Homo sapiens: one gene and its partners. The protein of the gene in region 1 purifies or fractionates together with the protein of each later gene. This does not show direct contact. Each region holds a gene or a part of one and is shown in the gene's direction. Other genes may lie near its edges.

Region 1 (3,654 bases):
GTGTCATTTTACATACATTCTTTATTGTGTGCCGTCTGTTCCTCATTTTCTACAGTCTCTTGAAGCGGTCTCCGAATGTGGAGCTCTCCTTCCCACAGCGATCAGAAGGCTCAAATGTCTTTAGTGGTAGAAAGACAGGAACATTGTTTCTCACTTCATACCGGGTAATTTCTACTTCTACTTTAATCTGCTGATTAACTCTACATTTGTTTTCCTTGAAATGAAGAAAACTTAAACATTGACTTTTGAAGTGTTTTTAAACGTGCGCTTTGGGATTTTCCACACTGAAGGGTGGTGGAAGAAAAGATGATGTTTCTCAGTTAGACCAGAATGCACCTTGCTCTTGTAAGTCTCAATCCATGGACAAATTCTGCATTCCTTTTCCAAAGTTTCTGTCCTTGCGTAGGTGATTTTCATAACTTCATGCTCCATCAGTGATCCCATGTTGTCTTTTATGATGCCATTTGATCTGATGACGAACCTCACTGTTGAACAACCAGTATTTGCTGCAAACTTCATTAAGGGAACTATTCAGGCAGCTCCATATGGTAAGTGTTCCCTCAGAAGTGTGTATTTTTTTTTCCCTCAAAATCTTCTAAAAGGTTTAAGATTCAAACTTGGCTCATGTTGAAATTCAAACAAAAGCTGCCCTACTTTGTCAGGTAGTGCTTCCCTTGGTGTTTGTGGCAGTCTTTCTGTTGTCAGCTATGCCAGTTTCTTGGTGAGTGTGTGCCATTTCTTCCCCCAGGTGGCTGGGAAGGACAAGCTACTTTTAAATTAGTCTTCAGAAATGGAGATGCCATTGAATTTGCCCAGTTGATGGTGAAAGCTGCCTCTGCTGGTAAGTGATGCTGATAAAGATATTAAGCACTTTGGGGTTTTTTGTTTGTTTGTTTGGGTTTTTTGTTGTTGTTGTTGCTGTTGTTGTTGTTTTGTTGTTTTTGAGACAGGGATTTTTGTATTTTTGTAAGTCGGGGTTTCACCATGTTGCCCAGGCTGGTCTCGAACTCCTGAACTCAAATGATCCTCTTGCCTCAGCCTCCCGAAGTGCTGGGGTTACAGGTATGAGCCACCATGCCCAGCCCACTTTGGGGTTTTAAGGCTTGTGGAATTAAAGCAGGACTTCTACTCAGCCAAGATTTGCTGGCCTTTGTGGCCAGGCAGTTGGTATTCGCACACATATTCAGCAGGCATTTCCTGGGCCTACCTACAATTGTCAAGTACCATGTTACAGGGTAGGAACACAAAGATTATTCAGTCCCTTCCTATCCTGAAGGAGCTTGCAATCTAGTGGGAGCTTACAGCCAGACACCCAGGTGACTAATTATACCTGATAGTCTTTTGTCCATTTAAACACTGACCTCAGATATCTACTGAGCGTCTCTTCCTTGGGTCAGGGAGCCCTTAGTTATTCTTTCTTTGGTGTGGCTTTTTAGTTTTTCTTCTCTCTGGACTTGCCTTTGCTTTTCTCAGGTTTAGTCCCCATCTTACATGAGAGGGGAGTAGAGGTACTGTCAAGACTTATAGCACTGATCTAATGGATGTACCACAGAACTCTTTCAAACTGTGACTACAAATAATTTTTTTATCTCATATATGTGTGTGTGTGTGTGTATATATATATATATATATATATATATATATATATATATATTTTTTTTTTTTTTTTTTTTTTTTTTTTTGAGACAGTGTCTTGCTTTGTCACCCAGGCTGGAGTGCAATCATGCAATCTTGGCTCACTGCAACCTCCACCTCCCGGGTTCAAGTGATTCTCCTCCCTCAGCCTCCCAAGTAGCTGGGATTACAAGTGTCCACCACCAAGCCCAGCTAATTTTTGTATTTTTAGTAGAGACGGGGTTTCACCATGTTGGTCAGGCTGGTCTCGAACTCCTGACCTCAGGAGATCCACCTGCCTCAGCCTCCCAAAGTGCTGGGATCACAGGCGTGAGCCAGCACGCCTGGCCGGTCCTTGCGATCTTTAACCCATGGCTTCCATGGCCTCTTTGTACAGCCAGCAGAGAAGGAAATAAAGATCTCCCCTGGGAAATTTTTATGGGCCAGGCCTGGAAACTGTCTACATTACATCTGGTCACATGCCATAGGCAAAACTCAGTGTGGTAGGCTGATAATGGATCCCCAGATATATCCCCATCCCAATCCTCAGAATCTGTGACTGTTACGTTATTTGTAAAAAGGGTGTTTGTAGACGTAATTAATTTAAGGATCTTGAGATGACAAGATTACCCTAGATTATTTAGGTGGCCTCTAAATGCCATCACAAGTGTTCTTATAAGAGAGATGCAGAGGGGAGACAAGACAAAAGTGTTTTCTTCGGTACCACACTTCCTCACATTGGTCTTTAATGGATATATCTTACCAACTTGGTAGAATCCTCACTTAGAAGTTTTTTCTGAATATCTGTTATGATTAGGTGCTATGCTAGGCCTGGAATAAGCACAGGCAAATGAGATACAATCTCTGCCCTTAAGACACGTGCCATTCAGGACAAGGGTCATATTTCTTTTCTTTCTTTCTTTTTTTTTTTTTTTTTTGAGACAAGGTCTTACTCTGTCACCCAGGCTGGAGGCTCCAGTGCAGTGGCACAGATAAGGCTCACTGCAGCCTCAAATTTCCAGGCTCAAGCAATCCTCCTGCCTCAGCTTCCTGAGTAGCTAGGACCACAGGCATGCACCACCATGCCTGGCTAATTTTTAAAAAATTTTTTGTAGAGATAGGGTCTTGCCATGTTGCCCAGGCTGGTCTTGAACTCCTGGGGTCAAGCAATCCTCCCATCTTGGCCTCCTAAAATGTTGGGATTACAGGTGTGAGCCACTTCACCCAGCCCATGTTTCTTTTTTATCTTGTGTCTCAAGAGCATTGTTGGAAACACATGTAAGGTGGTGATTAAATACTCTGTTAATTGTTTAGTTGATATCTGCTATATATCTGACTTAATTAAAAGAGTTCCTATTTTGCCAAATTTGTCTTTCCAGCTGCCCGAGGATTTCCACTTAGAACCTTAAATGACTGGTTCAGCTCTATGGGAATTTATGTAATTACTGGGGAAGGGAATATGTGCACTCCACAGATGCCTTGTTCAGGTAAGGTATGGCAGAGAGGTTCTTCCTGGAAGGTGGAAAATTATGCCAGAGGCTCAAAGATCTATCCCTTGCAGGCTTGCTCCCTGCAGGAGCAGCAGCAGAGCTTTAGGGGCTTGGAAAATGGTCACATCTGTGACTTTGTTTCCAGACTGAAACCCAGTGGCAAAGTCAGCAAGTGACTGGGCTTTGGTTTCAGGCTTACTTTTAATGATATATACAAACCTGGAACATACTTGGCAATCCTGTTAGTGGGAAGGGTCACTTCCTGTTTATAGCCTGAGCAGAAAATATATGCTCTTGCCCACTTCCTTGTTTCCATTTCACATAGCATAGTCATCATACCTGTGCCACACCCTTCAACCTTACTGAGGACTCGAGCCCTGGGTCCTTTAACAGTTTGTGTTGTTAAAGTCCACTGCTACTGAATGGGGTTTCTGGAAAGTAATTCTCAAACATGGTCCACTGCCTACTGGTGGGCCACCAAGGGTCTCCTAATGCTGCCAACACACACAAAAATATGGGACTTTTCTTGAGTTCTCCTTGGAACTTGATA
Region 2 (3,654 bases), on another chromosome or scaffold:
TACAATATTGAGTGATTAGTTTTACTTAAATGAGTCTGATATGTTAGAAGAACCTGTTCGTGAAGAATTTTGGTTGTTGATGTATATTTTTTAAGTACCTCAGGAATTAAAGTATGTGTGCAGTGCCTTACATTTACGCAGATGAGGATATGTTTGTAGCCTTCTGGAGAGAACTAGAGAAGCCAACTTTTTAAAAATGGAAATTTGGAAATCCTTTGTGTGTGTGTTAAGGAAAGAAAAGTAAGAAGGAAAAAGAAAGTGAGCAACTGGGATTCAGGCAAGAATATCTGCTGTCATAATAATAATTTAAGTGACAGAGCAAGCTGCTGATAGGAGATGGTTATTATCCTGATAATATTGAATCTTCAGGTGGCATATGAAGTGAGTTTCCATAGTCCCTGAAAAGGAATATAGCAATAGAAAAATATGTTTCAGAGACTGAGATGATCTAATGAGCGATACTGATAGAGTATATTCCACGGTATCATTGGAGTTAGCCAGCCAGTGAGCTTACCTTCTGGAGGCTATTGAAATTAAAACTCCTAGGTTAAGTTAGTTTTTCTCAGGAGCCAGAAATGAAATTTAAAAACAAAATTTAAGCATATTAAATATTTTGCTCATCGGCTTTGTGAAAAGTTGAGATTACCAGCCCGGTTACCTGGTTCTAGCTGAACTCTAACAGGCTTGTTTATACATTATTTACTAATGTTTAGAATCTGAAATCCAAAATCACTTCTCCTCTTTTTCAATCATTATTTTCTTTGGTACAGGACTTGTTTACACTGGGCATGTAAACGAAACCATGGTCAGGTGGTCTCTTACCTGTTAAAATCAGGAGCTGACAAAGAAATTCTTACCACAAAAGGAGAAATGCCAGTCCAGTTAACATCAAGGAGAGAAATCAGGAAGATTATGGGAGGTGAGTCTGTGTTTGGGGGAACTTTTGATTTCCTCAGACTCATTGAAGACTTGTGGTATTATTGGCTACGTTCTTAATGCTGGTCAAACAACTGCTCTATTTCTTTCTTTTTTTTTTTTTTTCCGAGACGGAGTTTAGCTCTTGTTGCCCAGGCTGGAGTGCAGTGGCGTGATCTCGGCTCACCACAACCTCTGCCTCCCAGGTTCAAGTGATTCTCCTGCCTCAGCCTCCCAAGTAGCTAGGATTACAGGCATGTGCCACCACGTCTCGCTAATTTTGTATTTTTAGTAGAGACGGGGTTTCACCATGTTGGTCAGGCTGGTCTCAAACTCCCGACCTCAGGTGATCCGCCAGCCTCAGCCTCCCAAAGTGCTGGGATTACAGGCATGAGGCACCGCTCCCGGCAACTGTTCTATTTCTAAAAGCAAATTACTGTGCCAAGATAGTAATTCCAGATTGTTTCTGGGGAGGTCAGCATTGTAAGGTTTTATTTTTTTATTTGTAAAATTTAAGATAATGATAAAAATGGTAATCATAAACCTAATGAAGTATTCTTTTTTCTTCTGACCTGACACTGACCAATGTCACATACCAAAAGACACCACTTTCAAAAGACACCTTGTTTTGATAATTTTGAAAGGACTGTGTAAATGTTCTGTTTTCTTCTTTTTAAGTGGAAGAAGAAGATGATGATGATGATGATGATGACAACCTCCCCCAGCTGAAGAAGGAGTCAGAACTGCCCTTTGTTCCCAACTATTTGGCCAACCCAGCCTTCCCTTTTATCTATACACCCACAGCAGAGGATTCAGCCCAGATGCAGAATGGGGGCCCCTCCACACCCCCTGCATCACCCCCTGCAGATGGCTCACCTCCATTGCTTCCCCCTGGGGAACCTCCCCTGTTAGGGACCTTTCCCCGGGACCACACCTCTTTGGCACTAGTTCAGAATGGTGATGTGTCGGCCCCCTCTGCCATACTCAGAACACCAGAAAGCACAAAACCGGGTCCTGTTTGTCAGCCACCAGTGAGTCAGAGCCGCTCCCTGTTTTCTTCTGTCCCGTCCAAGCCACCAATGTCTCTGGAGCCTCAAAATGGGACGTATGCAGGACCAGCGCCAGCATTCCAGCCATTTTTCTTCACTGGAGCATTTCCATTTAATATGCAAGGTAACCCCTCATCAGCAAACAGCCTCTGCAACAGGGGAGTTGGTGTCCAGAGGGGTGGGATTTAATGAGGTATTCTGGGTATAATTGCAAACTTACAGAAACGTTACATGACTAACATAAGGAACTCCCTTTACTCAAATTCACAAATTGTTTACCTTTTGCCCTTTTACCCTGATACCCTTCAGTATTCTTTCCATTATATCTTTCCTAAGAACAAGGATATTCTCTCTTTTTTTTATTGAGACGTAGCTTCGCCCTGTCACCCAGGCTGGAGTACAGTGGTGTGATCTTGGCTCACTGCAACCTCCGCCTCCCAGGTTCAAGTGATTCTTCTGCCTCAGCCTCCCAAGTAGCTGAGATTACAGGAGCATGCCACCACGCCTGGCTAATTTTTTTTTTTTTTTTTTTTTTTTGTATTTTTAGTAGAGATGGGGTTTCACCATGTTGGCCAGGCTGGTCTCAAACTCCTGACCTTAAGTGATCTGCCTGCCTCAGCCTCCCAAAGTGCTGAGATTATAGGTGTGAATCACCGCACCCAGCTGGATATTCTCTTATATAACTACAGTACAAATGACCAAATTTGAGAAATGTAATCTTGAGCTAATGCTGTTCTGTAATCCATAGACCATGTTTAAATTTTGTCAGTTGTCTCAAACATTGCCTTTTGTATTCCCTCATCTACTATACGTACTGTCTGTACTATTACAGAAATAGTACTATCTGTACTATTGATATCTATCTGGACTATCTGTACTCCTCTGCCCCCTGCATCCTGCCCAGGATCATATGTTGCATGTAGTTATCACGTTGTTTTAGTTTCCTTTAATCTGGAATCTTTACCCTTTATCATTTTTGATCTTGATCTTTTTGAAGAGTCCAGGCCAATTATTTTTGTGGGATATGATTTTCTATCATTCTTTCTCTACTTATTAGTTGGTATTTTACTGTAAAGAAGGGCTTTCCCTTCTCCTTCATTCATATCAGTATTGACTCATATATTCTTATTTTATTCAGTGGGTTATAATCTGTTACTATCATTTTTTAATTATTCAAATTATCCCAGATTTGGCCAGTGGGAGCCCCTTGAAGCTAGTTCTTATGTCCCTTGCATGTGTCTTCATTGTTCTTGGAGCACTGCCTTACTTTCTGGGGCAGCAAGATGTTCCGGGCTTATAGCATAACTTTTCCTGCCCCAACCCTGGAATCAGTCATTTCTCCAAGAAGCCCTGGTTCTTTTTGGTGGAGAATGGTATTTAGGGCACACAGCAAACTTGCCTCCCACTTGGGCCCACCGAGAATGGTATTCAGACACCAGGATGTGGTCACTAGGTGTCCTCATTGCTACAGGTATATCATTTCTTCTAGGCCCGTTGAGAGGACATAGCCAGGAAAGATATCAATATTTCTCTATGTATAACTTTTTAAAAATATTAAAAACCACAAGTTCATCCTGATTCTTCCAAATCCAGTCAAATGCCATAGGGTGTAGCTAGTCTTACTTTTCCTTTTTTCCTGGAAGTAACTCTCTCACTTCCTGTTTTTGAGGAGTTACTACTGTAGGTGCTA
Region 3 (3,654 bases), on another chromosome or scaffold:
AGCTATTTTATCTAGATAAAAAAAAAATTTGATGTTGAAAAGCCGAATTGAAAGTTTTTGAATGTTAAGGTATATATATACCAAAATTGTGGTTTTCATTAAAGCTTTTAGTTTCCCAGAGTATTTTTAGGATGTTGCTAGAAGATTTATTTCTTCATGAGTAGCCTACCCTTTTCTTTTCTTTATTATTATTATTGTTGTTGTTGTTGTTGTTATTATTTTGAGACCGAGTCTCACACTATCTCCAAGGCTAGAATGCAGTGGTGCTATCTCGGCTCATTGCAACCTCCTGCCTCATCCTCCCGAGTAGCTGGGACTACAGGTGCGCAACACGACGCCCGGCTAATTTTTTGTATTTTTTGTAGAGAGAGGGTTTTGTCATGTTGGCCAGGCTGATCTTGAACTCCTGACATCAGGTGATTCGCCCGCCTCAGCCCCTCAAAGTGCTGGGATTACAAGCGCGAGCCACCGCTCCCGGCCTAGCCTACCCCTTTCTAAAGTACATTTGAGTTTTGCGGTTGGCTTAAGTAGACTTTAGAGTGGTCTTGGTGTGTCTGAAACAGCTGAATATCCTTAATTGACTGCCCTTTGATTAGAAAATTCAAATGTTTTACAATATTTATCTTAGAAAAAAAAGAAAATTCATATGGTAGCTCCAAACCTAGGCATATGCTTATAGCGAAGTGGAATCTGTGCCTAGATTGATGTAGAATAAGAATTTCATTCCATGTTCTTAAACCAGTAGCTGTTATGGCTCAAGATAGAGATGGTTTTAGTCATAAATTAAGTCTTTAATTCAATGCATTTTCATCAACTAATGGATTAATTTGATTAGTGGAGTTAAAAAACCGGCCTTATACAAATCATAAGTCAGAAGTTTATTTTCCTGTCTTCAGGCACATTTTTACATTTTTTTATTATATGCCTGTGCACAAAGTTGAAATAGGTTGATATGACTTCTCTGCACTAATATTTTGCTTCGGCAGAAAGAAAAACTCAGTGTGTGTATATAAAGTTAGTGTAAAATTTACTTCAAGTGCAGTCTGATTTTCACCAAACTGGGTTTTTGTCAACTGCATCTTTGACATTTCATAGATTAATCTTTAAAAGACAGTAATTTTTAAAGAATTGGTTAAAACTTCTCTGTCTTGGTTTTACTGGTAATGATCTGAAAACCAAAATTTTAGTTTATAGAAAGATGTTTAATAAATTCGGCACCTTTTCATGTAATTTATAGGTTTGGGATAACTAGATTTTTTTTCATATACTTCTTTGCTGCCTTAGTCATATGAAATGCACCTAAGGATGTTGTGCTCACGTGGAACACATACACACAAAGGATGTTTTGCATACTTATTCACAAAAATAGTTGGTGATTTGTAATAAAACCTTGAAGTTTATGAATTAATAAGTACAAGCTAGGAGTTTGCATTGTTTGAATTATACATCATTGTAGAGGTATTTTTTTTTTGCCAGTTCTTTAAGCTTTAATATTTTACCTTATTTGTGACTTCCGTTTAGTTTTGTTTTGTCAGTCTCTGATAGGTATCGCCTAAGTGTGTTAGTTTTAGAAAACCAATCAACTTCATAGGTAAAAGCTTGAGGCAGCTTTTGAAAAGAATCACTGTACATTTTATCTCTTTTAAAAATAAACTTCACATCAGAGGAGAGATTTTTTGTTGTTGTTGTTCCTGACCTTTCCTGATATTAGTGCTTTAGTGTTGGGAAGTGAATTTCTATTTTTATCTCTAGTCATAATAGGAAACAATAGTAAACCTTTTGAAGTCGTGATTTTAAAAATATCTATTATCTGTAGACTAACAGATATTTTAAGCTTTGGAGCTGTATGACCAATCTTGTAAGAAGAGGTAAAATTCAGATTAGGTGCTTTTGCTGCTCATCATTAGCTCTGATGAAAGGTAAAATACTTTTTAATTATAATGAAGAAGACTAATAAGTGGCTGAATTTGATTAAGATTACTGACCCACTTACACAGGAGTGGTGGTGATGTAGCATCTTCCTTTTTGTATAAAAACTGGAAGCTGTAGCTTTAATTTGGCATATGAGTTCGGTTGATTTTAGCAATCAGATTTCGTTTTGGTTTTTTTTTTTTGAGACAGGGTCTCACTCTGTCATCTAGACTGGAGTGCAGTGGCACCATCACAGCTCACTGCAGCCTTGGCCTCCCCACCCCCAGGCTCGAGGGATCCTCTCACCTCAGCCACTCAAGTAGCTGGGACTACAGCTACACACCATTGTAGAGATGGAGTCTCACTGTGTTTTCCAGGTTGGTCTCAAACTCCTGGGCTTAAGCGATCCTCCTGCCTCAGCCTCCCAACGTGCTGGCATTATAGGCATGAGCCACCATGGCCGGCCTCATTTCTTTATTATAACTTTTTATTGAGATATAATTCACATAACATATAATTCATCATTTTAAAGTATACACCAAAAAGAAATCCCACACCCATTAGCAGTTAGTCCCAGTTACCCCTTCCCCTGAAACCACTAATCTACTTTGTTTCTCTAGATTTGCCTGTGTTGGACATCTCATATAAATGGAATCATACAATATATGTGACCTTTTTCTTTATAACCTTTAATAATTAACTAATTTTAACTTTATTTTTTATTTTTTTAAAGAGACGGGGTCTCACTCTGTCTCCTAGGCTGGAGTGCAGTGATATGGTTATGGCTCACTGCAACCTGAACTTCCAGGGCTGCTGAAGGTGTCCTCCTGCCTCAGCCTCCTGGCCACCATACCTGCTATTTTTTTTTTTTTTTTGGTAGAGACTGACTGGCTATTTTGACCAGGCTGGTCTTGAACTCTTGACCTCAAACGTTACTCCCACATGGGCCTCCTAAAGTGATGGAATTACCGGTGTGAGCCACTGCACCTGCCCACCTGGCCTGTGTTTTAGTTTTTAAAGGTTGTGTGTTCACAAGACACAAAATTTACAAAGTGTAAAAGGGTATCTTTTCCAAGTCATCAAGTTTTCCTTGGATATGACCAATACTACTGTTTTCTTTTCTGTCTTTCCAGAGATAGTCTGTGTAAAGCAAATATGTACATGTTCTTTTTCATTCTTTGGCTTTTTATTTATTTTAAAGACCGAAATACTGTCTATTTCTTTGATTTTAAAAAGGAAAAATCTTTTACAAGGGTTGAAAAACTACCTATCAGGTACTATGTTCACTGCTTGGATGATGGGATCATTAGAAGCCCAAACCTTATATTATGCAGTAGACTCATGTAAACAAACCTGCACGTGTTCTCCCTGTCTGAAGTTTAAGAGGTACAATAAAAAACTTTTAAAAGATGTGTGGCATAATTTACAACTCTTCTGAACATTTTACGCTTAATATATCTTGTAGATACTTTTTGCATGCATTCATTAAGCTTATACATTCTCTTTTGTGACTGTTAACATTCCACTCTATGGATGTGTCATCATTTGTTTTACCATTTTAAGGACTTCTCTCTTCCTGTCTAGTCTTTTGCTGTTATAAGTGGGAATGCAGGGGATAATCTTGTATAGATATCATTTATCACAGGTGTGTGTATTTAAAATAAAGTCCTATAGTGGGTTTTAACAGTGAATTAAGAAAACTTAAAGTCCTGGGAACAATTCTTTGTCATAGGATGATATATG

Evidence for each region.
Region 2: the proteins of WBP2NL (region 1) and ANKRD40 purify together in Homo sapiens (affinity purification with mass spectrometry; one large-scale study listed by BioGRID and IntAct). This does not show direct contact.
Region 3: the proteins of WBP2NL (region 1) and MGA purify together in Homo sapiens (affinity purification with mass spectrometry; 3 studies listed by BioGRID and IntAct, with this or other methods). This does not show direct contact.

Annotation. Positions count from the first base shown.
Region 1 is NC_000022.11:42,019,256-42,022,909, forward strand, and holds part of WBP2NL (postacrosomal sheath WW domain-binding protein), read left to right. Parts: intron 1-55; coding exon 56-164; intron 165-389; exon of another isoform or gene 390-406; coding exon 407-548; intron 549-748; coding exon 749-841; intron 842-2,993; coding exon 2,994-3,101; intron 3,102-3,654. UniProt on the Homo sapiens protein: May play a role in meiotic resumption and pronuclear formation, mediated by a WW domain-signaling pathway during fertilization.
Region 2 is NC_000017.11:50,697,833-50,701,486, reverse strand, and holds part of ANKRD40 (ankyrin repeat domain-containing protein 40), read left to right. Parts: intron 1-770; coding exon 771-919; intron 920-1,593; coding exon 1,594-2,088; intron 2,089-3,654.
Region 3 is NC_000015.10:41,663,291-41,666,944, forward strand, and holds part of MGA (MAX gene-associated protein), read left to right. Parts: intron 1-3,654. UniProt on the Homo sapiens protein: Functions as a dual-specificity transcription factor, regulating the expression of both MAX-network and T-box family target genes. Functions as a repressor or an activator.